Linked DNA regions of Homo sapiens. The protein of the gene in region 4 interacts with the protein of the main gene of each other region in a biochemical or structural test. Each region holds a gene or a part of one and is shown on either strand. Other genes may lie near its edges. The genes, in order: THRA, RARA, LAMTOR5 and NCOA6.

What was found.
Region 1: the proteins of NCOA6 (region 4) and THRA form a complex in vitro, tested with the Homo sapiens proteins (2 studies listed by BioGRID).
Region 2: the proteins of NCOA6 (region 4) and RARA form a complex in vitro, tested with the Homo sapiens proteins (3 studies listed by BioGRID).
Region 3: the proteins of NCOA6 (region 4) and LAMTOR5 form a complex in vitro, tested with the Homo sapiens proteins (one study listed by BioGRID).

Annotation. Positions count from the first base shown.
Region 1 is NC_000017.11:40,086,954-40,093,518, reverse strand, and holds the end of THRA (thyroid hormone receptor alpha), read right to left. Parts: intron 5,278-6,565; coding exon 5,019-5,277; intron 4,314-5,018; coding exon 4,063-4,313; 3' UTR 517-4,062; downstream 1-516. Other genes in the region: NR1D1 (nuclear receptor subfamily 1 group D member 1), read left to right, coding at 237-436.
Region 2 is NC_000017.11:40,312,167-40,319,193, forward strand, and holds part of RARA (retinoic acid receptor alpha), read left to right. Parts: intron 1-3,026; exon of another isoform or gene 3,027-6,585; intron 6,586-7,027. UniProt on the Homo sapiens protein: Receptor for retinoic acid. Retinoic acid receptors bind as heterodimers to their target response elements in response to their ligands, all-trans or 9-cis retinoic acid, and regulate gene expression in various biological processes.
Region 3 is NC_000001.11:110,404,668-110,411,699, forward strand, and holds the start of LAMTOR5 (ragulator complex protein LAMTOR5), read right to left. Parts: upstream 2,954-7,032; coding exon 2,919-2,953; intron 1,713-2,918; coding exon 1,651-1,712; intron 1-1,650. UniProt on the Homo sapiens protein: As part of the Ragulator complex it is involved in amino acid sensing and activation of mTORC1, a signaling complex promoting cell growth in response to growth factors, energy levels, and amino acids.
Region 4 is NC_000020.11:34,815,628-34,822,654, reverse strand, and holds part of NCOA6 (nuclear receptor coactivator 6), read left to right. Parts: intron 1-1,015; exon of another isoform or gene 1,016-3,353; intron 3,354-7,027. UniProt on the Homo sapiens protein: Nuclear receptor coactivator that directly binds nuclear receptors and stimulates the transcriptional activities in a hormone-dependent fashion. Coactivates expression in an agonist- and AF2-dependent manner.

The DNA.
Region 1 (6,565 bases), on a different chromosome or scaffold from region 4:
TGGTCTTACGGGATGGGAGGTGACCAGCCCTGCTGAGCCCACGCTCCCAGCTTTCAGGCACCTCCTGCTCTTGGGGCAGAGGCCTGGGAGAAGGTATGGCACTCCTTCTCCTTCCCCATCGGCCTTCTGGGGGGCTTCAGGGAGAGGCTGCATTGCCTGCCAGGTCCTCGCAGACCTCCGGTTCCTCCTCAGAGGAGCTCGGGGAGTCCGCCTCACTGCTGTCGTCTTCCCCACAGACCGCTCGGGCATGGAGAATTCCGCTTCGGTGGAGCAGCTCCAGGAGACGCTGCTGCGGGCTCTTCGGGCTCTGGTGCTGAAGAACCGGCCCTTGGAGACTTCCCGCTTCACCAAGCTGCTGCTCAAGCTGCCGGACCTGCGGACCCTGAACAACATGCATTCCGAGAAGCTGCTGTCCTTCCGGGTGGACGCCCAGTGACCCGCCCGGCCGGCCTTCTGCCGCTGCCCCCTTGTACAGAATCGAACTCTGCACTTCTCTCTCCTTTACGAGACGAAAAGGAAAAGCAAACCAGAATCTTATTTATATTGTTATAAAATATTCCAAGATGAGCCTCTGGCCCCCTGAGCCTTCTTGTAAATACCTGCCTCCCTCCCCCATCACCGAACTTCCCCTCCTCCCCTATTTAAACCACTCTGTCTCCCCCACAACCCTCCCCTGGCCCTCTGATTTGTTCTGTTCCTGTCTCAAATCCAATAGTTCACAGCTGAGCTGGCTTCTGTGGTGTGTGCTCGTTTGGGGGGTGGGGTGGAAATACTGCCAAGGCTGGGGGGGGCCACCTCTCCATCTGGTCAGTTTGTGGGGTGGGTACTCTGCCAGCAGATGGGAGGATATAGGGAAACAGCACACAAGTCTAAGGGGGGTGCCCAAGGGGGTTATTTTCATCATATATTTATTACATAAATATATAGTAAAATAGACGAGCAACAATTACCATAAAAATATCTTTCTTTAAAATCCTGACCCAAAACACAACGGGGTGAAAAATCGCACATAACAGACATACTGATTGTCAACGTGGGGCAGGAGTAGGAGCCCCTCAAGTCACCCCTGCCGGTCCCACCCCTCCCTGGGGAAGAGACCTACCTCCTTCCCTGTTTCTGGCCACAACCCCCCTCCCCCCAGCCCAGCACCAGCTTCTCATACATTCAGTAGCGCCTCTGGGCAGTGTCCCCCTCCCCCCCGCCCAGGAGTTCCCAGGGCAGGAGTTACTGTCCTCCTTATGGACGGTCTCTCTCTCACAACGCCCTGCCCTCTCCCAGCCCTGCAGACCCGCCACCAGGAGAAGGGGTAGGGGCTCCTCCCCCACCCTCCCCAAGTCTGAGCAGGGAGGAGGCTGGATGAGGTATGTGTGTTATGAGTGATGGGAGGGGCAATACTGAGATGGAGAGGCGGGTGGTGGGGGCGGGGTAGTGGTCATGGCTCTGGCAACCCCTTGTCCTGGCCTGGCCCCCTCGTCCTATTCCCAGCAACCCGTCCTCCCACCGATACTGCACCTGCTGCTCCACCCTGCCTGCCCTAGTGCCCCGGGCCAATACTGGGGGAGGCATGCTGAGCACCCACATCAAGGCCATCCCCCTCATTAGCACCAATGGCCCCCAGGAGAGGGCCCTGTCCCCCACTTCCACAGCAGGGACTGGGACAGCTGCCGCTCTAGAGCAGGTGCGTGGCACTCCTGAGTCGCCCTGGCTCCTCCCCTACCATGTGTACTCACTCACACATTCACGCAGAGGAACGCACACATACACCCCACATCACCGAGGGGGAAGGGAGGGGTCCGGGGAGGATGGGATCACAGCTCATATGATTGGGGAGGGTGGGGGAGTCCCAAGTGCCTATAAGAGGCTAAGGCTCTTCAAGGCCTTTTCTCTGCCGTGTCCATGGCTGAGAATGGGGATGGAGGGGTTGGGGTGGGGATGGAGGGATGGGGAAGACAGCAGACAGGTCAGGAATTCCACTGGGCCCCCAGGCGTGGTAGGAAGGTACAAGAGGGCCTACCCATGGGACTGGAGTAATACAGGATTCAGTACTCCAGGAGAGAGAGAGAGGATAGAGACAAAGACAGCGCGGGCAGCCCGAGGCCCCAGCAGGGTGGGACAGGCACATGCACAGGTGACAGCGGGTGCTCCTCCAGGCCCTCCACCCCTGTTGGAACACCTGAACGATTGGGGAAGGACAGTGCCCTGACGGGCAGCATAGCATTGCCTTCCCATGTCCGTGTGTGCATGTCCGTGTGTGTGTGTGTGTGTGTGTGTGTGTGTGTGTGTGTGTAGGGGGCTGTGGCAGGCTGAGGGTCAGGGTGGGGTGGCAGGTTCCCCACTGCTTAAGACATTTTTGCCCCAATAGTGCAAAGCGCAGGAAGCCCTGGCACCCCTCCCCCCACCCCCTGCCCCAATCCCCATGGCTTCCGGGGGCATCTGTGTCCACCCATCCATCCCTGCCGACATGCAGCCCTGAGCCCAGCACCCTCTGGTCTGCTCTGTCCCACCCCACCTCCTGCTCCCATGGGAGGACCACCTCCTCTCTCCCTCTCTCCCCTGAGGAGTGGGCGGCAGCCACAGGGAGGGGGAGGAGGACAGCTCACCCAAGTGCAGACCAACAGAGCACCCTCACCAGGAGGGCGAGAGGGGCTCAAGCCAAAGTCCCTGAATTAGAGAAAAGAAGAGGGGAAGGGGTCCCGGGGCAGAGGGGCAGCTGGCCAAAAGAGCTTTAAAGAAAAAGGAGCACCGACCACCCCTCCCCTGGGGCCCCAACTAAGTGTCACTTATCTAAACACCCCCATTCTGGTACCTGCCCGCCCAGAGTTAGTGCAGTGAGTAGGAGCTGGGGAGGAGGGCAGAGGTTAGAGAGAGCCCAGAAGACAGATGGGAAACAGGGAAACAGAGTGCTAAAGGGGTGGAGGGTTCTGGGAGACGCTCACGCACAGCCCTCCTACCCCCGACCCAACCAATGCAGCAGCATCCGGTTTCTAGCTAATACTGCAGGATATAAGGAGGGTAGGAGTTGGAGCCACAGTTTTTTCCTGGGTGGGTGCCAAGGTGTGGAAGGAGGAGGTGGATGGGGAGAGGCCCCTAGGGCTGGGCACTTAAAGGGGAGCTGTGTGGGCAGCAGGGCAGGCTGGTGAGGGGCCAGCTGGCATCCAGCATGAGAGGTAGATGGAACTCAGCGGGCACGAGTGGCAGAAAGCAGAGGACATACTAGGGTTGGGGGGTGCCAAAGGGGCACAGAGGGCGGGGTATGGCAAGGGGGGTGGCCAGGACCCTGTTGTGTTAACTCACAGCTCTGATCGGCAGCCCTACCCTTGGGGCTCTGGTGTGGGGGCATTTCTCTCTGATGTGGGGGAAGAAGGGGCAGCTCGCAAAGTGCATGGGGTGGTAAAGGGGGGGTCCTCCCCTCTGGTCAGCCTCAGTTAATAACTTAATATCATCTCTCTCTATCGCTCGCTCTCTCTTTTTTGTATTTTTCTCTCTGTCTAGTTTTTCTTCATTTGTCTTCTCCCCTTGCTTGGTTTCCAAAGTGCAGTTAGAATGACTATAAATTTTAACCTCCAGAGGAGGAGCCAAGCCAAGCCGTTCTTTGCACCCAGGCATCTGGGGAAGTAGAGAGGCCCTCAGCCTGGAGGGGAGACCTAGGCCAAGGAACTGGGTGGGGGCTCTCTCTCATGTGTGTGTAGGGGGTGAGTTGAGGGCATCTTCCCCCAGCCCACATTCCTCCTTCCCCTACGGTCAAGGTGGCTTGTCCCTTCTCAATCCTCCCGCCCTTCCCCTACCTTCTGAGAGGATGGGGTCCTGGGAACTGCAGGACACAGCTCCCCCAGCCTCCCACACTGTCCTTTCCATAGCAAGTTCAGTTGTTTGCCCTGTCCCAGGGCTGGAGGTCTGAGGAGGGACCTGGGCAGTGCGGGTGTGTGTGTGGGAGCTGAATCTATCCAAGGACGAGAGGAAGGAGAGAAGGGGTGTGGGGGGGTCTCCCTCAGCCCCCAGCTCTGCCCCTTCTCTCCAGGCTCCTCCCCACCAGCTCCGCACACCCTCTGGCCGCCTGAGGCTTTAGACTTCCTGATCCTCAAAGACCTCGAGGAAGAGTGGGGGGAAGAGTTCGGTGGGGCACTCGACTTTCATGTGGAGGAAGCGGCTGGCGTGGCAGGCCCCGATCATGCGGAGGTCAGTCACCTTCATCAGCAGCTTGGGCCAGAAGTGCGGAATGTTGTGTTTGCGGTGGTTGACGTAGTGCTCGAACGCCAGCAGGTACGCCTCCTGACTCTTCTCGATCTTGTCCACACACAGCAGGCCCGAGCGGTCTGTGAGGGAAGAGGGGCGTGAGGGGCGAGGGGCTGGCCGAAGGCCTGGAGATGGGGAGGGTGAGGTGTGGGGACGTGGGAAGAAAGGACTAGAGGGGAGATAGAGGCAGAGAGGCTGGGGGAGGGGAGGGGAGAAGCTCCCCCTGAGAGACGTGGACAGGAGAAGCACAGGGAGAGGGAGGCAGCTGGGAAGTGGAGAGGGGCAGGGGGGTACTGGGGGGAGGGGGCAATGCAAGGAGGACAGAGGGACAGGCCGGGGGCTGGGGGAGAGAGAGGAGCCTTGGAGTGGGGAGGACTGAGGTTGGTGGTCAGAGAGGCGGGGTGCAGATGGGGTTAGGGAGGGGACTGAGGGGTAAGAGATGGGACTGGGAGACAGAGGAGGGATGAGGGGATGGAAGGTGGCTGAGAACAAAGTGGGGAGTGGGGAACAAAGGGGAATGTGAGTGACAGAGGGACAGGGCAGCGAGAAGGAAGGAGACAAAGACAGGAAAAGGCACAGAGCAGGGATGGGGAGGCAAGGGATGGGCCTGGGGAACGAGTGAGAAGTGTGTGACAGAGCAAGGAACAGGGGATAGGGGATGGCCCAGGTGACAGAGAGGTAGCCCAGAAGAAGATTCAGGAGGGAGTTGAGCAACAGGCCCAGGGTCCAGCCAATCTCTGGGACCCCTGGAAGCTTCTGAGCCCTCCCGACTAATCAGCAGGTACCTGTTGACATTAGCAGCACAGCCTGCAGCAGAGCCACTTCCGTGTCATCCAGGTTAAAGGCAGAGAGTGACTTGCCCAGTTCAAAGATGGCGTCGGAGACTACGCCCAGGCCGCCATTCTTGAGCTGCTCCCGCTTGACAGCCATCTCCCCACTCAGCGTCAGGGTGTCGCTCTCAGGGTCGTAGCGGACAGCCGCCCGCAGGGACATGATCTCCATGCAGCACCCCTTCAGGAGGATGATCTGGTCTTCGCAAGGCAGCTGTGGAGCGGCAGGGCCACAGGAGCACTCAGCATACCCCTCCCCGCGTCCTTGAGTCTCCCCTAGAGTGTCCTACGGGAGCCGTGAGGCCCGCAAGGCCCCCATGGACTCTGAACGGCTGACCTTGTATTGGGCCATGTGCATGCCCTATTCCATTTAAGCCTCACAGTTATGCCTGTGAGGCCCGGCGCAGTGGCTCACGACTATAATGCCAGCACTATGGGAGGCCAAGGCGGGTGGATCACTTGAGGTCAGGAGTTCGAGACCAGCCTGGCCAACATACATGGTGAAACCCATCTCTACTAAAAATACAAAATTAGTTGGGCGTGGTGGCACATGCCTGTAGTCCCAGCTACTCAGGAGGCTAAGGCAGGAGAATTGCTTGAACTCAGGAGGCGGAGGTTGCAGTGAGCCCAGATCGCGTCACTGCACTCCAGCCTGGGTGACAGAACGAAAATCTGTCTCAAAAAAGAAAAAAAAATTATGCCTGTGAGTTAGCACCCATCATTATCCCCAGCCCACTCCAGATGGGAACACTGAGGCACAGGGGATGGAGGTAACTTACCCCAGGTCACATGGCTAGTAGGGCAGCCTGTCTCCAGCACTAGTGCTCTGGAAAATGAGAACTTTCAGGCTGCCTGGAGTTGGGTGGCCGCATAGACTTGAAGGATGAGGGGCTGTGGAGGGGAGCACTTGGAGCCGGCTGATTTCTTAGAGCAGCCAGACCTTGGCGTGTGTCTGTATGCTGTGTGTGTGTGCCTGTGTGTTTGTGTGTGTGTCTGTATGTATCTATGTGTGTGTCTGCTAGGTGTGTGTGTGTGTGTGTGCCTGTGTGCTGGGTGTGTCTGTGTGTGTGTGTCTGTGTGCTAGGTGTGTGTCTATGTATCTGTGTGTCTGTGTGCTAGGTGTATATGTCTGTGTGTGTGTGTGTGTCTGTATCTGTGTGTGTGTGTCTATGTATCTGTGTGGCTGTGTGCTAGGTGTGTGTGTGTGTGTGCCTGTGTGCTGGGTGTGTGTCTGTGTGTGTGTGTGTGTCTGTGTGCTGGGTGTATATGTCTGTGTGTGTTTCTATGTATCTGTGTGTGTGTTTGTGTACTAGGTGTGTGTGTGTCTGTGTGCTGGGTGTATGTGTGTGTGTATGTGTGTCTGTGTACGTATCTGTATGCTAGGTGTGTGTGTGTGTCCGTGTATGTGTCTGCATGTGTGCCTGTGTGCTGGGTGTATGTGTATGCATGTGTGTGTGTGTGTCTGTGTATGTTATCTGTGTATGTTGACCTACAGGAATTGC
Region 2 (7,027 bases), on a different chromosome or scaffold from region 4:
GGCCCTGCCCTTTGGGTGCCCACAATGTGGTTGGCACTGATTTGTCAGAAATTGGGAAGGTTTCCCTCTAGACCGCTTGCCTCCTTTCTCCTCCTCCCGCAGGGTAGGGGCAGCTCTGTGATTGCAGGCACTTATGGGCAGGCCTCCCCCTAGGAAAGGGGTGTGGGATGCCCCCAGGATGGCCAAGTTGGCGCTAGCCCCAGGCTGGAGTGCTGGACATGATTCTGACCTGGGAGTTAGTGGGGGTAAGGCAGGGCATGGGCCTCCCTGCCCCCCTCATTTCCTGCTCTTTGGGCAGCTGTGGGCGAGAAAGGCTGCAGGGACTATTTTTAGTTGGTCAGTCCCCTGGCAGGAGGGACGTGCAGAAAAGCACGGGGCAGGCAGAGGGGCTGGCCAAGGTGAGGGTAAGCAGGCAGGCAGAGGAGTGAGGAAGGGCCAGAGGGGCAGAAGACAGCAAGGAGGCATGGGGAGCAGGGGCAGGACCTTACCCAGAGGGGCATGACCCAGGTAGATGGGCCGGGCTGGACTGGGTGGAAGAGTCCTGGCACCCTACAGGGTTTTCTTTATCCAGCTGGACTCAGAGCTGGAAGGGGTTTTAGAGGCTACCTAGGCAATCCCTTCCCCTTGCAGAGAAGGAAACTGAGGCCTAGAGAGAACACTCAATCAGTCATTGGCTGTGTTGAGACCTGAACCCAGGCCCTCCCTTTGCACCATTTTTCTGTTGTCATGGTTCCTCACCACAGCTCAGTGTGCTTCCCTTCCCTACTGCAGCAAGGAGGACCACGAGCCAGGCACACCTGGTCCATTTTCCCATCTGCTTTTTTGTGCAGGGTCTCTGAAAATCCCAGCTTGGTTTGTTTATAAGTCTCCATGTGGAAAGAGTCTGTGTCCAGGCTAGAAGGAGGTCAGAGTTGGGTTTGTTTGGGTGGCCTGTGGCCACTGGTGTGAATGGAGCTGCTGGACAGGCTCCAGCAGGCTCACAGGCTGGTGAGCTGTGGGGCTAGGAGACACCTTACAGAAGGGACGTCCAGACTCCCCAGAGCCCTTTGTGAGCCCTCCTCCTGCCCTGCCCAGGACCTGTGGGTCATGGTGGTTGTTTGCCCATCTCCCCAACAAAAGAAGGGAGCAGGGCTGAGGAGTGGGGAGATTACTACTGGCTTCTGATCGCTAGTCAGAAGGAGGCCCCCTCTGAGGCCTGGAGGCAGGGAAAGTTGGGGCAAGTTGGGGTGTGTATGGGGAGAAAACTCAATGGAGAATTGTGGTCCCTCAGAATTCAGTCTGCTTTCTGTCTTCTGCCTCAGGCTCTCCCCACAGGCCACCATGCTGCACAGCTGCAGGGGGAACCATTCCATAGACTATGATGTGAATGGCACCCCCTGGGGTTGTTCAAGGCCCTGCCTGTGTAGCCACACGTGGTGCATCTGTCTCCCACCTTCTTCCTTCAAATTAGTTCAGACCCACCTGGAAGGAGGTGTTCCAGACAGGCCTTAATCCAACACCCTCTCCCCTACCCTGCCTCATGCCACTCAACATCTCCTATTCCTCTGCTGCCCACCCCCAACGCACCAAGCAAGTCATGGTGCACCACCAATTGTGGTTCAGAAGCCCCTCCCCTTCTCTCTACGCAGTTTCTGTGTCTCTTGGGGGCTGATTTATCATACCCCCCATCAAGCCTACTGCAGTGTGTGAGAAATCAATAGTGCAAATGGATTGAGGCTGTTTAGCCTGTCAACTCTCCTTGGGCCCCACCAACTCTTCTGGGACTTGCGGAGTTGCTCAGTCCCCTTCTGGCTCAACATACACATATTTAGTGGTTGTAGCCAGAGCACTGAGCACAGGAATTATTCTTTCTGTTGGTCTCTGTCTCATTCTCTCTCATATACTAGGCTGGTCTTAACATGACAAATACTCTTGAACATTTATTTTCTAGCTTGGGTGGACGGGCTTAAAGGGCAGTAGGCTGCCAGCCAGAGGTAGGGAGGGAGGCAGGTGGGTGAGGGATATGGCGGGTGGAGGGGTGGGGTGGGGGTGGGGACGAGCTGGGGAAGGGATTGGGTGACAGCCCACCCCATCAGCTCTGGTAACTCAATCCCTGCACCCCACCCTCCCAATTTCCCTCCTGCTCAACAACTTCAGCAGCTGCTGGCAGAAGCAAGGCTGGCAGAAGTGTGTTTGAGTGCATGTGTATATGAGGGGAGAGGGTGAGAGGGGCTGTGGGGGCAGGGAGTGCTGCCAGGACATGTTAAAGGAGACTCACAGCCTGGGTACAACTTGGGTGGCAGGAGGAGGTGGGGCAGGTGGGAGAGTGGGTGGTGAGTGATGGGCAGGCTGCAGTGGGGGCAGGGCAGCACAGGGGTCTCACAAAACTTGTTGGCACTGGAGCGGGGCCTGGTGTGGTGGGGGTGGGCAGTGGTGAGGGGGCAGGGGCTGGCACAGACATTGCTGGCCCCAGAATGCTGAGGCCCATTCTTTGCCAGGGGGCGCATGTAACCATGGAGGGACAGTCTGCCCCTGTCTGCAATCCTTGGGCTGTGCCTGCTGGGCATCACAGTCTTGGTGGTGACTAAGTCACTTCTGTCCTGGGGCTGGCAAGGTGCCAGGCTCAGCTCTTCTCGGTAGGTGAGTCACTGCCCTGGCATCTCCCCCGGATGCAGCTGAGTCACCCAGCCATGCCTGCTAGGCAGGTGGGCACCAGGCTTGTGGTGGGGGTGGAGGGCTATGTGTGCAGCCCCCAGTGTCTTCTCTGATCTCTCTCTGGCATGTCCTGGCCCCACCCATAAACCTGCAGAGCCAGGCAAGGATGGCGCTTCTCCCTTGTGATCCACTAAGGGGTGAAGGAAAAGGTAGCAGGGCACAGAGTGGAGTCATACATGTTTGATTTGGAGTAAGTAGGGGAGGAAAGAGTTGAGGAGGGAACATTGATTGGGTTATATGTATATATATATATATATATATGCTTATATGTGTATATATATATATATATATATATATATATATATATATATACACACACACACACACACACACACGTATATATTTATTTATTTTAACAAAAAAGACACAGGGTCTTGCTATGTTGCCCAGACAGGTCTTGAACTCCTGGAGTCAAGCAACTCCTGGCGTCCCATCTTGGCCTCCCAAAGTGCTAGAATTAAAGGTGTGAGCCACCATACCTGGCCTGGGTTTGAATCCCAGCCCTGCCATTGACAAGCTGTATGACGTTGAGGAAGGCAATTTTCTTTTTGAGCCTCAGTTTTTTCATCTCTACAATGGCAACAGGAGCCTGCCCCTTCAGGACTGTGAGAATCAAATGGAGTGGGACTATTAAGGTACTTGTGGGAGGAGCTCCTTTTGGGATGAGCTAGGAGGCTTGGGAGGGGAAGAGGAGTCAGCTGGAGCTGGTTCCAACAAACTCCCGCACCATGGTCTTGGAGGGCCAATTGCTTCTCATCATCTCTTCGGAGTATCACTTAATGCTGTTCTTCAGGAGTTTCCACAGGCTGTGAGAAGACAGCCTTGTTGTACTAGAAGTGTGGGCCCTCCTAGGGTGTCTCAGAGCTATATTTTATCTCTTTTGACTACTGAGAACTGCCACTGGCCCTGGTACCTGTCCAGACTCTCTTCCTTCACTTCCTCTAGTTTGAAGAGGGATGGGGCTCAGACTCCTCCCCCAGCCTATCTCCTGTGTGCAGGGAAACAGTAGGCCCCAAGGAGTGTCCTTCTTAGAGTGAGGCGCCCCGAGCCTGTGGCTTTTCTCTCTCTGCTAGTTTCCTGCTGCTCCCTGGGTACCCTTCTCTCCTCCTGCATCAGAGTCCCTGGTGGGAGGGGGTGGTGGAAGCCCTGTTATGAGCCCAGCATAGCTGGAGTTCAACTGCTGCTGCAGATTGAAGACTCCTGGTCCCCCACCTGGGGACCTCTCCTGCCTTCTGCAGTCAAGCTTGGGTAGGGCTGGGCCTTGGACAGGTGGTACTGGTTTCCCTGGACAGGAAGGAAATGCCCCAAAGATGTGCATGCTTTGTGTTTGTACACACGGGTGCTGGTCTTGTTTGAGTGTCTGACCCCTGCGGGGGGTGGGTTTGTGTGTATGAATTTCTTCCCTCATCCACACATGGGGCTACTTCTGTGTCTGTGCAGAAGTGTGCCCCACCCTCTGCTTCATGCCCTTGTCTGTGCACAAATGTGTTTGGATGTACTTGTTCATGCGTGGATGTGCATACATGCGTCGGGGATGTACACATCCCTGCCCTGAATGTGCACGTGGAAATGCATTTGTACCAGGATGCCTGACCCTATGATGGCAGGTGTACCTGAAGGTCGTCCCACTTGGGAGGCAGTGTAGCTGTGTGCATGCATGCTTGCATTCTTGTGTCCATGAGCCTTCCCCTCCAGCCTCAAGGAAGGAAGACAGGTAGGATCTAGGTTGGGAGGTGTCCGTGGGCACTAGGGGCGGGCTGGCGCTGACTCCAGTCCTGGGCTGGTTCTCACCTGGGCAGAGCTCCCTGCTGTTGGCGGGGCTCAGGCTGGAAGGCCCTTGGGGGAGCGCGGCTGGGGGGTAAGGGGTTAAGCGGTGGCGTCCACATCTGGGAGCCATTGGCGCATTCCTGCCGGCTGAGCGCATGTTTGCGGATGAATCTGGACAGGACAGGGCGGGAGGGGCTGGGCGGGAGGTTCGCACCGGCGGACGGAAATCCAGACGGGAGCGGGAGACAGCTCCGGCCCAGCAGGCGGGAAGGGGCCTGGGGAAGCGCGGCCCAGCACTGCTGGGGCAGTTTCCCGTGCGCCGGCCCTCAGGGCAAAGGGTCCCGCCATCCTGGCTTGTCCTACCTTACCATGGCTCTTGGGCTAAAGCCAGGGACAATCAGATACTTCAATTCTAGACCCGGCTCTGCAACCGGTGCGACTGTGCACAAAACCCAGTGCCTGCTCTTGGACTCTCTTTCCTTGTTTGTAAAGCGGGGTCCGTCGGACCAGTGGGTTTGAGAGCTCTGCCACCGGGTCAGGCTGAGAGTCTCCTCACTGGGCTGGAGGCCTGGGAGTGCAGCACTTCCCCTTCCAGTGGGAAGTTCTGTGGGGGCACTTGTGGCCACTTCTCTGCCTGGGAACAGGGCGAGAGGGGAGTATTCTAAGCAATTCTGCTTCCCCCTAAGCCCGCCAGTGGACTGCTAGCGATGGGGACAGGATCCTCCCAAACAGAGCTGCAGGCTGGGAGGGGGGTCATGACTGTATTGGGGACTGGGGGTCTCTCAGATGGAGGGTGATTCAGATCCTGTCCAGCTGGAACATGAAAAAGAGCTTTCCTGGCTTCTCCAGACTTGTTCGGGAGAGAGAAGCTTGAGTGTGAGTCTTTGAGCACGGAGGGGTGCTCCTGGGCGCCCCTACTGGAAGATCCAAAAGTCTTGCCCTTTGAGGAGAAGAGTACTTTAAGGGGGCTGGGAGGGTTGGGTTGAGCCAGGGTTCCTAGGACCCACTGGAGCTGCAGAGGTGTTTGGGGAAAGAAGAGATATACTTGCGGGAGATCTACTCCTGGACTCTTTTTTTTTTTTTCTTTTTCTTGCAGCTGAGATAATTAAGATCCAGGGAAGGGAAGTGACTTGGTCAAGGTCACACAGCTCTCAGTTCCAGCTGGTCCCTAGAAGAGGATTATAATTATAGGATTCAGGGGCTTGACAGCTAGGGCAGGAGTCACCGCACTCACTTCCATATTACGCCGCCGCCTCACTTCTCAGATTTAGGTGTGGGTGTGTGTGTGGTTGGGGGGAAAGGAGTGTAGGATACCACACGCTGCGGTCTTCTCCACCGAGCGCTATTTTCATTCTTTCCGCAGAACCTCACCCCGTTCTTGCTCTGAATCTTCGGTTCTGGGTCTGAGGGAGGGATTCTCCCGGATTCCCACGGTCCAGTCTTCAACTAGGAGTGGCTCCTTTAAGACTCGCCCTTCCCGAGGTCTATTAAGGAGAGGCGGGGGCGGGCGTGAGCCTGTAGATCCGCCCCTGACTGGTGATTGGTCGGTGGGCGGGCAGGGGCGGGCCTGAGGGACAGGGCCTCCCCCTACCTCTGCTCCGTACCCTCCGCCCCTTCAGTCTGGGGCTCCGGGTAAAGTTTCAGCCTCCGCACGTGACTCGCTATGGCCGCTGCCATCGCCCCGCGCCCCTGAGCCGCGGCCCCCTGGACGGCTCCTCTCCCGGGACCCCGCACCCTGATGCCGAGCAGCACCAGGGCGCCGGGTTAGGGCAGACGCTGTGCTCGCTGGCACCCCGAACGGGTTGCTTCCCCCGCTGCGAGGTAATTCCTCCCCTGGGGATTTTGGGGAGCCCCTGGTTCCCGCAGGCGTCGGGGCCCCATGTCCTGCCCCAGATTGGTGCTGCGGGAGGGGACTGGGTACCGGGAGGCTTCCGACGGGAACCCGGGGTTTCCTGGGCTTCCCAACTCGCTGCCGCCGTGTCCAGGGTGGGGGAGCCCCGTCTGTGAGTCTGCCTGCGCCGTGTCTTCGCGCGCAGCCTTGAGGCGTCTGGGGCCGTCTGCTGCGCGTGTCCCCCGCGCTCGAGCTGTTGCAGAACCGCCGCTGGGAACTTCTGTTCTTTTTCTCTTTAATGATAAGCAAAACAAAAAGACTTGAATTCAAACCTGTTTGGGGAGAGATCGGATGCTCAACGGACTAGCCCCCTCTCTTTTTCCCTCCTGTTATCTGAGCTGCCCTGTGGTTTGGGGAGAATCAGCCAGGGGGCCCACTCCCACCAGAGGGAGCCGGCCGGGGGCCGGGCCGGTTCAGCTGGTGTCCCCCGTGGAGTGAGGGGAACCGTCAGAATTGGGTGCGGGAGCCAATGCAGTATGTGTGTAGGGGTGTTCCTGGGTCTTGTGCCACCATGGGGTGTGGGAACTTTTTGGGGTGAGGGGAAGACGGAATAGACTGACTTGTCGACTTTGCTCTGCTGAGGGTGTCTGGGACCTGGTGCCACCCACGAGGCTTGGAAGCTGCTGGCCAGATGTGTGTGTGAGCCTGTTGTGGGGTTGGGGGGACGGCTGGGAA
Region 3 (7,032 bases), on a different chromosome or scaffold from region 4:
TATTTCCTCATGTGTAATTGCTACCATTTATTAAGTATTATGTCTCAGTTCTATGTAAGCATTTTATACATATTATATAACCTTAAAATATCGTGATTAGGCCGGGTGTAGTGGCTCATTCCTGTAATCCCGCACTTTGGGAGGCGGAGGTGGGTGGATCACCTGAGATAAGGAGTTCGAGACCAGCCTGGCCAACATAGTGAAACCCTGTATCTACTAAAAATACAAAAATTATCTGGGCGTGGTGGCAGGCGCCTGTAATCCCAGCTACTCAGGAGGCTGAGGCAGGAGAATTGCCTGAACCTGGGAAATGGAGGTTGCAGTGAGCCAAGATCGTGCCACTGCACTCTAGCCTGGGCGACAGAGCAAGATTTCGTCTCAAAAAAAAAAAAAAAAAAGTGATTAAGAGGCCTCAGGGCCAGACAAAAATCCTAGCTTAACGACTTACTAGCTGCATGACCTCAGGCAAGTTATTTAACCTCTGTGTCTCAGTTTCTTTTTTTATTTTTTGAGACAGAGTCTCGCTCTTGTCATCCAGGCTGGAGTGCAATGGTGCAATCTCGGCTTACTGCAACCTCTGCCTCCCAGGTTCAAGCGATTCTCCTGCCTCAGCCTCCCGAGTAGCTGGGATTACTAGCACCTGCTACCATGCCTGGCTAATTTTTTTTTGCATTTTTAGTAGAGATGTGGTTTCACCATGTTGGCCAGGCTAGTCTCGAACTCCTGACCTCAGGTGATCCACCCGCCTCCGCCTCCCAAAGTGCTGGGATCACAGGTGTGAGCCACCGCATCCGGCCTCTTTTTTTAAATTTTAAAAACATATATATATGTTTATTGTAAAAATAGAGATGGGGGGTCTCACTGTGTTGCACAGGCTGGTCTTGAACTCCTGGGCTCAAGTGATCTGCCCACCTTGGTCTCCCAAAGTGCTGGGATTACAGGCGTGAGACACTGCACCTGGTCCCTCAATTTCTTTTTCTACCTCACTGGGTTGTTATGAGGAATAAAAGAGTATATGTAAAGCACTTACAATGGTGCTTGGCACATAACAGCTCAATAAATATAATTCTATGATTATTACCATTATCAAATAACAACCCAGTGAAGAAAATGAGGGCCTAAAAGGTAGTTTTTTGGTCCACGTTCACACTACTAACAAATGAAAGAGCAAGGGATTGAGACCAGGTATGTCCAACACTGAAATCCCATTTTACTGCCTATTCACTTCTTGTTTAGTGTAGTTGAGCTTCAAAATTGTACACCACCCACCTTGCCGGGTTGTTGTGAAAATTAAAGATAATGTATTTAGAGCCTAGCAGTCTCAGCATATGGCATACATTCAATAAATGGTTAACAGCTGTTATTATCTGAAGTCCTTTCTAGACTCAATTTAAAATGATTCAAATATTATTTTTAGTAGAGACAACTATTTATTGTTATAGGACTGCAAGGAACATCTTCCTTCATAAATACCAACTGAAAAGTTTCAATTTTCTGATACTGTTATTTGGAGATAATCTCTACTCTCAAACTCAGAAAGACCTGGCAAGGTAACAGGAAATAAAAGCTAGAAAATAATAGCACGCTAGGCTCCAAGTCAACATCAGATGCTATGCAATTCATCAAATAGTTGGTATGAGAGATACTTACAACCCAGATTAAGTCCTTGTGAATCTGTGCACAGGACTCCAACAATGGAGGGATTCTTCATTCTAATTCCAGGAACACAAGAGAGTTGAAGTACATAATGGGAGAAAAAGGATTTAAATAAGTACAAACATACAGGTGTTCTATGTACCAGGCATTAAGTGCTTTAAATCAATATTTCTCAATCTTTTTTCATTGTCACACCCTAAGAAAAAAATTAAGTTCTAGGGCCGGGCGCGGTTGCTCACGCCTGTAATCCCAGCACTTTGGGAGGCCCAGGTGGGCGGATCACCTGAGGTCGGGAGTTCAAGACCAGCCTGACCAACATGGAGAAACCCCGTCTCTACTAAAAATACAAAATTAGCCAGGCGTGGTGGCGCATGACTGTAATCCCAGCTACTCGGGAGGCTGAGGCAAGAGAATCGCTTGAACCTGGGAGGCGGAGGTTGCAGTGAGCCGAGATCACGCCATTGCACTCCAGCCTGGAAGACGAGCGAAATTCCGTCTCAAAAAAAGAACACAAAAAATTTAAGTTCTAGTTAATTAATTGAAATAAACCAGTTTCTCTCTGATGAGAGAAAAAAATGTGCTAAGTACTGCTGAGTTCTGGAGGGCCACAAACACTGCGTGAAAAACATCTAGGATGTTTTCACTCTTGTTAAAAACGCATGTTTTAGTACTAACTCATTTAAAACAACTGTTGAAAAACTCAAGTTACCTCCTGGAGGGTAAGTGGAAGCTGAGGGACATCGGTGGGAGGCAGGTGTCTCTCTGTACCCTTTACACTTTTCCAGTTTTGAATTTTACATAGATACTGCTTGTTCGAAAAATTTAAAGAATGATTTTTATCTACTTAAGCACCAAGTAACTGATAGGTTACACACAGGAGATACGTGTTTGTTTACACTGCAGGGCTCGACACTGCACAACTGGCACAATCTTCCCAAAAGTCAACCCGTTTTCTAAAACTTCCGCAGAACCACCCTGACCGTAAAGACGATTTCAACAACGAGATAGGCAGTTTTGGCCCGTGGCCTGGGCCCGGGAGACTCGCTCAAGAGGGAATGTGCGGTGCCCGGCAGGATTTTAATTCCGGGTCACCCGCCCCGCCCTGCGGCCTTGGGTAGAGTTTAGCCCCCTCATCCCGTGTCCCGGGGGTCGCGCGACGTCCCCGAGACGCCCTGGCCGGTACTCGCAGCTCGCGCCTTTCGTTCCGCTCAAGTTCCTCCGCCGCGACCTCAGGACAGGCCGAAGAGGCGCGCACTACTCACGTGTCTTCCAAGTGCTGCTCCAAGGTCGCCTCCATCCCACCCACCGACCACTCCGGCTCAGAACCCAGCGGCACGGCACGTCCTTCTCCACCACAGGCCTCAGTCACTTGACGCGAGCGGGGCGTGGACCGTAACGGCGCCTCCAAAGGGACAAAATTGATCACGGTGCAACGTCCGCGTTCTTTACTGGAAAACATCACTGCGCTTCCGTCGCACAGAGCCTGACGAAGGCTTGGGCTCCCCGCGCGGTGACCGTCGAGGTGACCTGCACCTGGCTCCATGGCGGAACCGGCCGGCACGGATTATTCCCCTCTCGGGAGAGGTCTGCAGCCGGGCCTCAGTGCTTCAGTTCGTGGCCTGGCATTTTGTGTCAGTGTTTTTTAACCTTTGGACCCTAGTTCAACCGACTCCGAGACCTAGGGGACAGATCTTAAGTTTTACAATAACCCAGGGGTCAGACAGGGTCTGATCTAGCCTGTGGGGCAAGTACGGGGAAGACACGGGACCTCTTGGAGGGGGTCAGTAGGCTTGTAGGGGGAAAGACGCACACAGAGACTAAAGGACGAGATGGAGCAAGGTTCAACCCCCTAGCTGAGTGTTGGCAGTGTCGGGATTTTAACGAAGACATTGGTGCTTATTATGGTGAGGGGACTCAGGACAGTTTAGGGGAAGAGAGTGGCATTTGAGTCCTAACTCGTAAGGAAGACTGGGTAGGACTACTTGAAAATAACTTTTAAAAATTAATTATAAAGCTGGTAAAAATAGGAAAACATCTATGGCCCCACTGTCCAAAGACGACTTTTAACTTCTTGGAGAATATCCTTTCAGATAGTTGTCTTTGTAAATGTATACTTTTAATGTTTTTTCGTTTGCCTTTTTAAAATAAATTTTTTGGGGGACAGGGTCTTGCTCTGTTACCCAGGCTGTAGTGCAGTAGAACGATTATAGCTCATTGCAACCCGGACGTCCTGGGTTCAAGCTATCCTCACCTCTCAGCCTCTCGACTGGCTAGGACCACAGCCTCGAGCCATCATGTCTGGCTAATTTTTACGTTTTTTTGTAGAGATGGGGGTCTCGCTGTGTTGTCCAGGCTGGTCTTAAACTCCTTGCTTCAACAGATCCTCCCACTCCAGCCTCCCAAAATGTGATTACAGGCTGAGTCACCACGCCTAGCATGGTTTTTTTTGTTTTGTTTGTTTTGTAAGCAAAATTGACATACATACTGGAGGTACAATTCTGTAGCTGGCCTTCTTTACAGAGTTTAGAATAAATGTCTTTCCATGTCAAGTTTTCACTTACATCCTTTGTAGTAGTTGCAAAATATTCCATTTTATAGCTGTATCTTAATTGTGGATTAAGGTTGGAGTGCAGTGGCACTATCATGGCTTAGTCCAGCCTCAGCCTTCTAGGTTCAAGCGATCTTCCCACCTCAGCCTCCCAAGAAGCTGGGACTACAGGGACCCGCCACCCCACCTAGCTAATTAAAAAAAAAATTGTAGAGATGGAGTCTCAGTGTGTAGCCCAGTCTCAAGTGACCCTCCCTCGTTGGCTTCCCAAAGCGCTGAGATTGCAGGTGAGCCACTGTACTTGGACTTTTTTTTTTTTTTTTGCTTTTGTTTGTTTTTTGTTTTAGCTATTACAATGCTGGTTGAATATCCTCATAGCTAAATATCTGTGCAGTTTTAAAATTTCCTTATAAGTTACTAGAAATGGAATGACTGGGTTAAAGGACATGATCATTTTTTAAGACTCTTGATACATACTTACAAATTGCCTCCCGAAAAAGTGGTGCTAATTTACTCAAATTGGTAAGCCTCACCCCCTCTGTGGATCATTCCTTGCACTAAGTTTCTTCCAACTCTGTCACCTCCAGCTTTTTACTCACAGCCTACCTTCCAATCTGGGGCCCAGCTCCCAGATCGGAAGATACCAGACTTTGGTATTGAACCAAAGTCCAATACACTGCACTGGCATTCAGAGTCCCTTTTTATTCCGCAGCTGTCATAGTGAAGCTTGCAGCTTCCTTGAAATTCCAGTTTGTTTATTTCTTTATTTTTTTGAGACAGAGTCTTGCTCTATCGCCCAGGCTGGAGTGCAGTGGCGCCGTCTCAGCTCACTGCAACCTCTGCCTCCTGGTTCAAGCGATTCTTCTGCCTCAGCCTCCCGAGTAGCTGGGATTACAGGCATGCACCACCACACGTGGCTAATTTTTGTGCTTTTAGTAGAGATGGGGTTTCACCATGTTGGCCAGGCTGGTCTCAAACTCCTGACCTCAAGCGATCCGCCCACCTCAGCCTCCCAAAGTGCTGGGATTATAGGCATGAGCCATTGCACCCAGCCAAAATTCCAGTTTGAATGTTATAATTCAGGGGTCTTGGACTCCTGCTCTAGAGAAATTATTCATGTTAAGTTAGGGGTAACACAGTACAGGCCATATAAGTTTTAGAAAAAGCAGTTTAAAACTTAGCATTAGAAAACATAAGTACTGCCTGGTGAAATGGCACGTGCCTATAATCCCAGCTACTCAGGAGGCTGAGGCAGGAGGATCCCTTGAGCCCAGGAGTTCAAGTCCAGCCTGGGCAATATAGTCTAGTGGCCACATTAAAAAAAGTAAAACAGCCGGGCGCGGTGGCTCACGCCTGTAATCCCAGCACTTTGGGAGGCCGAGGCGGGTGGATCACGAGGTCAGGAGATTGAGACCATCCTGGCTAACACGGTGAAACCCTGTCTCCACTAAAAATACAAAAAATTCTCCGGGTGTGGTGGTGGGCGCCTGTGGTCCCAGCTACTCAGGAGGCTGAGGCAGGAGAATGGTGTGAGCCTGGGAGGCGGAGCTTGCAGTGAGCCGAGATCGCGCCACTGCACTCCAGCCTGGGCGACAGAGCGAGACTCTGTCTCAAAAAAAAAAAAAAAAAAAAAAAAAAAGTAAAACAGGGCAGGGTGCAGTGGCTCACGCCTGTAATCCTAGCACTTTGGGAGGCCGAGATGGGTGGATCAGTTGAGGTCAGGAGTTTGAGACCAGCCTGGCCAACATGGCGAAACCCCATCTCTACTAAAAATACAAAAATTAGCTGGGTGTGATGGTGCGTGCCTGTAGTCCCAGCTACTCAGGAGGCTGAGGCAGGAGGATCGTTTGAACTCGGGAGCTGGAGGTTGCAGTGAGCCGAGATTGAGCCACAGCACTCCAGGCTGTGCTACAGTGTGAGACTGTCTCAAAAAAAAGTAAAACAGATGAAACTAATTTTAATAACATTTTATTTATTCAAACAATATATTCAAAATATTATTTCAACTTGTGATTGATAAAATACTAATGAGATATTTTATATTTTTTCTCCAGTACTGTCTTCAAAATCCAGGGTATATTTTTCAGTTAGCAGCACATTTCAATTCAGACCAGCCGCATTTCAAGTGCTCAGCAGCCACCTGTGGCTAGTGGCCACAGTATTGGCCAGTGTAGCCCAAGGATATCTCAAATTATCTCAAAGCTAGATCAGTGATTAAAGGATTCTCAGGCCAGGCATGGTAGTTTTCAGGCCTGGTATGGTGGTTTACGCCTGTAATCCCCGCACTTTGGGAGGCCTAGGTGGGCGGATGGCTTGAGCCCAGGAGTTTGAGACCAGCCTAGCCAACGTGGGGAGACCCTGTCTCTACCAAAGCACAAAAATTAGCTGGGCATGGTGATGCGCACCTGTGGTCTCAAGTACTTTGTGTGAGGTGGGAGGATCACTTGAGCCCGGGAGGTTGAGGCTGCAGTGAGCTGAGATTGCACAACTGCACTCCAGCCTGGGTGACAGAATGAGACCCTGTCTCAAAAAAAAAAAAGGATTCTCCGAAAGACTGGCGATTGCTTTTTAAGCTATAAGGAAGGCCTTTGAAGGGAAATCAAGTAGGAAGAGGATGATAGCTGGCTCACATGTCCTTGCCACATGGGAGGTGAGAGAGCAGGCTACTCCTTACCACCCCCGCTTTCTCTGCCCTGCTGCTGTCTTGCCCCTGTGCAAGTAGGCAATGGGAGAGGAATAGTATATATAAATTGGGCAAGTGCTAGGGGCTGGAGTGATGGTTGGGGAAAGTATCTGACCCTTGTTTTCTACTTTCTTTAGCTTGTGGG
Region 4 (7,027 bases):
TTCAGAAGTTTTTAAGGCAGAGTCACTTCACTTTGGGTATGCAGCCCCATGAGTGAAGTAGACATGTGAACAATCATAGTTCAGGATGGTCGATGCCAAAGAAGAGTTATTAAACGCTATAAGGACACGGAGATGGGTGTGTCTGCTCAAAGAATCAGGGAAGGTGTTGCGAAGGGGTGACATTTGAGATGTGTCCTAAAAGATACAGGAATTTGCCAGTGAAATGGAGAGAAGGGCCTTTCAGGTAAAGACACGTTTTCAGGGAATGTATTAATAACTGAATGTGGCTGGAGCATAGAATGTGTGTGAAAGCATGGCCAGAGATGAGACTAGGAAGACCATGTTAGGAACCTGGTTGTGAAGGACCTTGCTAAGGAGTTTGGACTGAATCCTTAGCTGAGAGAGGCATTCAAGATCTTCGAGAAGGGGAGTATGTGGTGGAGGTTTAATTTCTAGGAGATAAATGGATGTTCTTTGGAAGGAGGGTAGACTGAAGACCAGAGAGGTAATGAGGATCTGAACTAAGGCAGAGACTGTGGGCACTGAGCAGAGTTAGAAGTAATGAGGATCTGAACTAAGGCAGAGACTGTGGGCACTGAGCAGAGTTAGAAGTAATGAGGATCTGAACTAAGGCAGAGGCTGTGGGCATTGAGTGGAGTTAGAATTTGCAGGTGTTGATTATTGACATTGTGAGTGGCTTAGGGGGAGTTTTTTAAATTTCTGGTTTGGGGTGGTGTCTGTCAAAGAGGTTTAAAAAAGTGAAAGGAAGTCTGGGCGTGTTGGCTCACGCCTGTAATCCCAGCACTTTGGGAGGCCGAGGCGGGCGGATCACGAGGTCAGGAGATCGAGACCATCCTGGCTAACATGGTGAAACCCCATCTCTACTAAAAATACAAAAAATTAGCCGGGCGTGGTGGCGGGCGCCTGTAGTCGCAGCTACTCGGGAGGCTGAGGCAGGAGAATGGTGTGAACCCGGGAGGCGGAGCTTGCAGTGAGCCGAGATCGCACCACTGCACTCCAGCCCAGGCAACAGAGCGTGACTCCGTCTCAAAAAAAAAAAAAAAAGTGAAAGGAAAATGAGGGGAGAATTCTCATTGATAATAAGGGCGAAAAGGTTTTTTTGGCAGAGTAATAGAGTTTTGGAAACCATTGCAAAGCTGTCAAGTGTGGTGTAGTTTTTGGTTAAGGAAATCAGAGGTGTCAGCAGACATAAAAGACAGGGGAAAACATGGGAAGTGTCCTACCTATAGTGTAGAAAAAGCACAACTATCTATGTCAGAGGTCGACAGACTGTGGTCCATAGGTCAAATCTGGCCCACGATCTGTTTTTGTAAATAACGTTTTATTGGAACATAGCCACACTCATTTATTTATATATTGTCCATATCTTCTTTTGTGGTACCAATAGCAGAGTTGAGTAGTCGTGACAGAGATGTGTTGTGTCAGCTCACAAAGCTGGAAATACTCTTTACAAAAACATTTGCCAACCCCTGATCTATGTGTTTGAGTGTTGGATGTTCAACCTCTAATTTGCCATCCAATGTCTATATGATGATAGAGAATGAATAAACGTCTTGGCTCTGCCCTTTGGGCTGGATTACCCATGCTCTGTGTACCTGCAGCATAACACAGACCCCTGAATATTTATATCAGTCAGTGATGGCAAGGTCTATTGTTCTGGAGTGTACTGTGTGGTAACTGTGGTAGTGCCAGCTTTACACGGATTAGATAATGCTCGGGCTTGTTTTGCCATTTTTTTTATTGGGTTGTCTTTTACAAAAGATTTATTTATATATTCTGATTATTAATCCTTTGTTGTTGGTAGATATTACAGATGTCATTTCCCAGTTTCTTGCTTATTTTAATTTTTTTTTTTTTTTTTTTGAGATGAAGTCTTGCTCTGTCGCCCAGGCTGGAGTGCAGTCGTGCCATCTCAGCTCATTGTAACCTCCGTCTCCCAGGTTCAAGTGATTCTCTTGCCTCAGCCTCCCAAGTAGCTGGGACTACAGGCATGTGCCACCACACCTGGCTGATTTTTGTGTTTTTAGTAGGGATGGGGTTTCATCATGTTGGCCAGGCTGGTCTCAAACTCCTGACCTCAAGTGATCCACCCGTCTTGGCCTCCTAAAGTGCTGGGATTACAGGTGTGAGCCACTGCGCCTGGCCTGTTGCTTATTTTAAAACATCTGTTTTAAGGTGTCATTTGTTAAAAAGTTCTGAATTTTAGTATCAACTTTATCAATCTTTTCCTTTAAGATTTGCAGTTATTCTTTGTTTTGAGGCAGGGTCTCGCTCTGTCACCGAGGCTGGAGTGCAGTGGTGCGATCTCGGCTCACTGCAGCCTCAACCTCCTGGGCTCAAGCAACCCTCCCACCTCCCATGCCAGTTGAGACCACAGGCATGCGCCACCATGCCCTGCTACTTTTTGCATTTTTTGTAGAGGCGGGGTTTCGCCATGTTGCCCAGGCTAGTCTGGAACTCCTGAGCTCAAGCAGTCCACAAAGTGCTGGGATTACAGGTGTGAGCTACTGTGCCCAGCCTGCAATTATTCTTTATATTCTGGAATACCTACTGTTGTTTTCAATGGTTAGATCTTTAATGTATCTGGAATGGATTCTTATGTGTAGTGTAAGGTCGGGTCCAGTTTCATTTTTTTTCCCTATGTATAACCAGTGATCCCAGCATCATTTATTGAATGGGGCTTGCTTTCAAATTGTGAGCTCTTTTTGGTGGAGTCTGTCTCAGGTCCTTATTAAGCACTGCTGCTTGCTGATTGTGTGACCTTGGACAAATAAAACCTCATTGCGCCTCAGTCTTTAAGGATAATAGTAATCTCATAGGGTTTTGTGAGGATTAAATGAGTCAATATACATAACGTGTAAAACAGTGCTTGGCACCTAGAACATGCTCAATAAATATTAGCTGTACTTTAGCACTACTGTTCATTTCTGATTCCTCAGCACCTGGTACAGAGCAGGGGCTCATTTTGCTCAATTAAATTGCCAAATTAATTTGGTTTTCAGGTCAATCAGAATGGTGAGAGTTGGGCTGAGTGTTGCAGGAGATGCTTCCAAGGAGCTACTTAGTTTTAGGGGCTGCCTTAGATTATCTGCTAGGATAGAACTCTTCTCACGCCATCACTTTTGCAGAGAACTTCTGTAGCAGAGGTTGCAAACTGGCAACCTGTGGTTGGATTTGACCTGTATAAGTATTTTGTTTGGTTTACACAATATTTTTAATGTCTTAAAAATGTACACAGACCTCTGAGTTTCTGACTTAACCTTGAAAAATTGGAAGATCTGTCAACAGCAAGCCCATATTCATTTATAGCGGTAACCAGCTGAAACTTTTAGGTGAGATGTGTTTCCTAGTTCTCCATAGTCTGCCTTGCTGTCTTGCTTTGCTCTTTATTTTTATGGCCCTGCAGACATTTAATTTTCTGATTCTTACTTTATTGAGGTATTGAATATTGTCTCCCCCAAACCAGTAAATGACATATTGGGATGGTGGGGGGGATGGCCAGAAATTGACAGATGAGTTTGTGGGCAAGTAAATACTAAAACCTATTTCTAAGGATGAGCCATACTTGATCATAATGAATAGAATGATAAATGAAATTAAAAGATGAGGTGAAATTCAGCTTAGCTCCTTGAATATTTAGGCATCTACTATGTATTAAGTACTGTATTAGAAATTACCACATTGGTGATAGAAAATTAGCTGGCCAGCTTTATGAAATACTGTAGAAGAACTCTTTTTACTTGTATTGTGGAGCTGTTGTCTAAGAGAGTGGTTGGACGAGAAAGGAAATATAGGTATTATTTTCTCAAACATTTGTTGAGCCCTACCATGTATTCTGGAAACTGGCTAGAACTCTGCAAGATACCAAGATGAATCTAGCCAAGGTTTCTATGCTGAGGAATGTCTGTAATGTGTTATGGAGCTGGGATACTAGAGAATGGTACCTGAAAGAGGTGGTCTGTGAACGAAGCTGCCAAGAATAGTTAGTATCTTAATACTTGGAGATGAGACAGTGCTGTATTTTCCAGGCTGAGTGAAAGCATAAACACAGAGGTGGGTATTTAGGAGATGGTAAAGAGTCCACTTTGCTTGGAGAAGAGGATTGTTATAAGGGTGTTGTTGGAATTAAGGGTGGAAATGGAGATGAACAATAGTAACAATAATAGATAAAACCTAAAATAAATAAAACTTAAAAAAATTAATAGTAGTAGTGGCTTTTCTTTCCCCCCAGTGTTCTTTGGGTAGGGTTTTTTTGTTTTGTTTTGTTTTGTTTTTAAATAGAACCAGGGTCTTACTCTGTTGCCCAGGCTGGAGTGCAGTGGCGTGATTATAACTCATTGCAGTCTTTAATTCCTGGGCTCAAGTGATCTCCTGCCTTGGTCTCCCAAATTGCTAGGATTATAGGCACAAGCCATATGCCTGGCCAATGGCTCACATTTTTTGCATGCTTACTATTTGCAAGATAATGTGCTAAGTATTTCATAAGTAGCATTTTATTTAATCCTTACAACAACCTGATGAGGTAGGCACTGGTTTTTAATCCCTTTTTACATATAAAATGAAGAAGAGAGCTAACAATTGATACAGAAAGTATTTGAGTCCAGGTAGTCTAATTTCAAAGCCTGCCTTCCTAATCTCTGCATACCATATAATCAAATCATGGAAGGCTTTGAATACCCATTTCTATTCCAAGCTGGGAAGTTTGAACTTGATTGACTAGGTAGTGGGAAGTCATCAAATGTTTTTCGCCAGTGATGTGATGAAAGCTGTACGTTAGGAAAGGAAGCCTGATTGTGAAGTGTAGGATCAGCATGGGGAGAAAGGAGAGATATGGAGCTAGTTTACTCTCTTACTTCTCACTAGATTGGGTGAGTGCTCCTTTAGGACTGGGCTGGTGTCTGTCTCTGCCTTCCCCCTTCCCTCCCTTCAGCTCCAGTGTCTGCCTATTTTGATGTCTGGTATATTCATTTATTTTTTTAAATGTGATCTTTTTCTACCTCACCTTATTCTAAAAAGGACATAAAGTAGCTGCCTAGGAGCTCAATAAACATTCTGAGTTAATTAGTAAATAACTAGAGTTACATTTAGATGTATACACAAATGAAATACTATGGCTTTGATGGAAGGAGGAATGCAGCCCTAGAGTTGGTCATATGCTTTATTTGATATACAATCTCTATAAAGCAGAAGGCCAGGACCATACCTTTACTTTGTGATGAATTGTGTATTCTATGTCAGTTATAATATTCATTATCAGTTAATAAATTAACTATATCAGTTAATATTAATGAGCACCAAATTCAGAGGGCATTCATACTTTAAACAGATATTTCAGTTTGTATTTAGCATTAACCAGCTGCAACCCCTCCCCCTCCGTCACACACACAAAGGCAACAAAAGTTCCCATTAATCAGCTCCTTTACTGATATTGAATCTGTTGAATATCAGTTCCGTAGTACCCATTTATATACATTTTCTTTTGCTTTTGCTTTTGCTTTTTTGTGTGTGTGTGTGATGGAGTCTCACTCTGTTGCCCAGGCTGGAGTGCAGTGGTGAGATCTTGGCTCATTGCAACCTCCGCCTCCTGGGTTCAAGTGATTCTCCTGTCTCAACCTCCTGAGTAGCTGGGACTACAGGCAACTGCCACCACGCCCAGCTAATTTTTTTGTAGTTTTAGTAGAGATGGGGTTTGACCATATTGGTCAGGCTGGTCTCGAACTCCTGACCTTAGGTGATCCACCTGCCTCGGCCTCCCAAAGTGCTGGGATTACAGGTGTGAGCCACTGCACCCAGCTGCTCTTTTTTGTTTGTTTGTTTGTTTGTTTGTTTTTGGAGACAGCATCTCACTCCCTTGCCCAGGCTGGAGTGCAGTGGTGCAAACTTGGCTCACTGCAACCTCTGCCTCCCAGGTTCAAGTGATTCTCCTGCCTCAGCCTCCCAAATAGCTGGCTCATACCTGTAATCCCAACACTTTAGGAGGCCAAGGTGGGTGGATCACTTGAGTTCAGGAGTTTGAGACCAGCCTGGCCAACATGGTAAAACCCCATCTCTACTAAAAGTACAAAAATTAGCCAGGCGTGCTGGCATGTGCATCTAATCGCACCTACTTGAGAGGCTGAGCCTTCCATCAATTCTTGGTGCTCCTTGGCTTGTAGCTGCATCACTCCATCTTTGCCTCTGTTGTCACATGGCGTTTTCCCTGTATGTCTCTGTGTCCAAATTTCCCTTATAAGGTCACTAGTAGGTCCCACCCTACTCCAGTAGGAGTAACTTCATCTTAATTGATTACCTCTGCAGCGACTCTGTTTCCAAATCAGGTCACATTCTGAGGTACTGAGAGTTAAGACTAACATATTTGGCAGGGATGGGATTGGGGGGCACAAGTCAACACATAACAGGTAGTGTTTGAGATAACATAGAGGCATTAAATTAAAATTTATTAAAATGGAAGGGTAAGATTGCAACAAATGGGATTAAGGAGAGAGTAACCAAAGGAATGATGGACATAGGAAAATGTAAGGAATATTTAGGTAATGAAATAGTGAGAAGTCTGATTTGCTGGTTTGTTGAGGAGTTGTGGAGAAGTGAAGCCGACGTACTTTCTTGGGGCCCTGGATGCCAGGTCTAAGACATTTGAATGTTGCTGAGTGACCAGTGTGTGGGAGCAGGATGGCACTGCGGAATTTTGAAATGGTAGATAATTGATTCAAGCTTTGAGTAACTGAGTCAAGTTTTAGAGACATTCTAATATGATCAGGTGATCATGGATAAGTAAACACCCTGTAGAAAAACAGATGGTCAATGACAACACACCCAGCCTCCCTCATTTTCCTATGCCAGTAACTTTTGCCAGCACAATAAAGAAATCTCTCTTCTGTAAAACAACAAACTTTGAGGGTTTTGTTAGCCCTCTCTTCTTGGTGAGTCATCTGTGGGCATTGAGAGATACATCAGCTTTTCAGGGTCTCCATTCAAAAGCCTCCCCATGGATATTTCAGTGTTAATA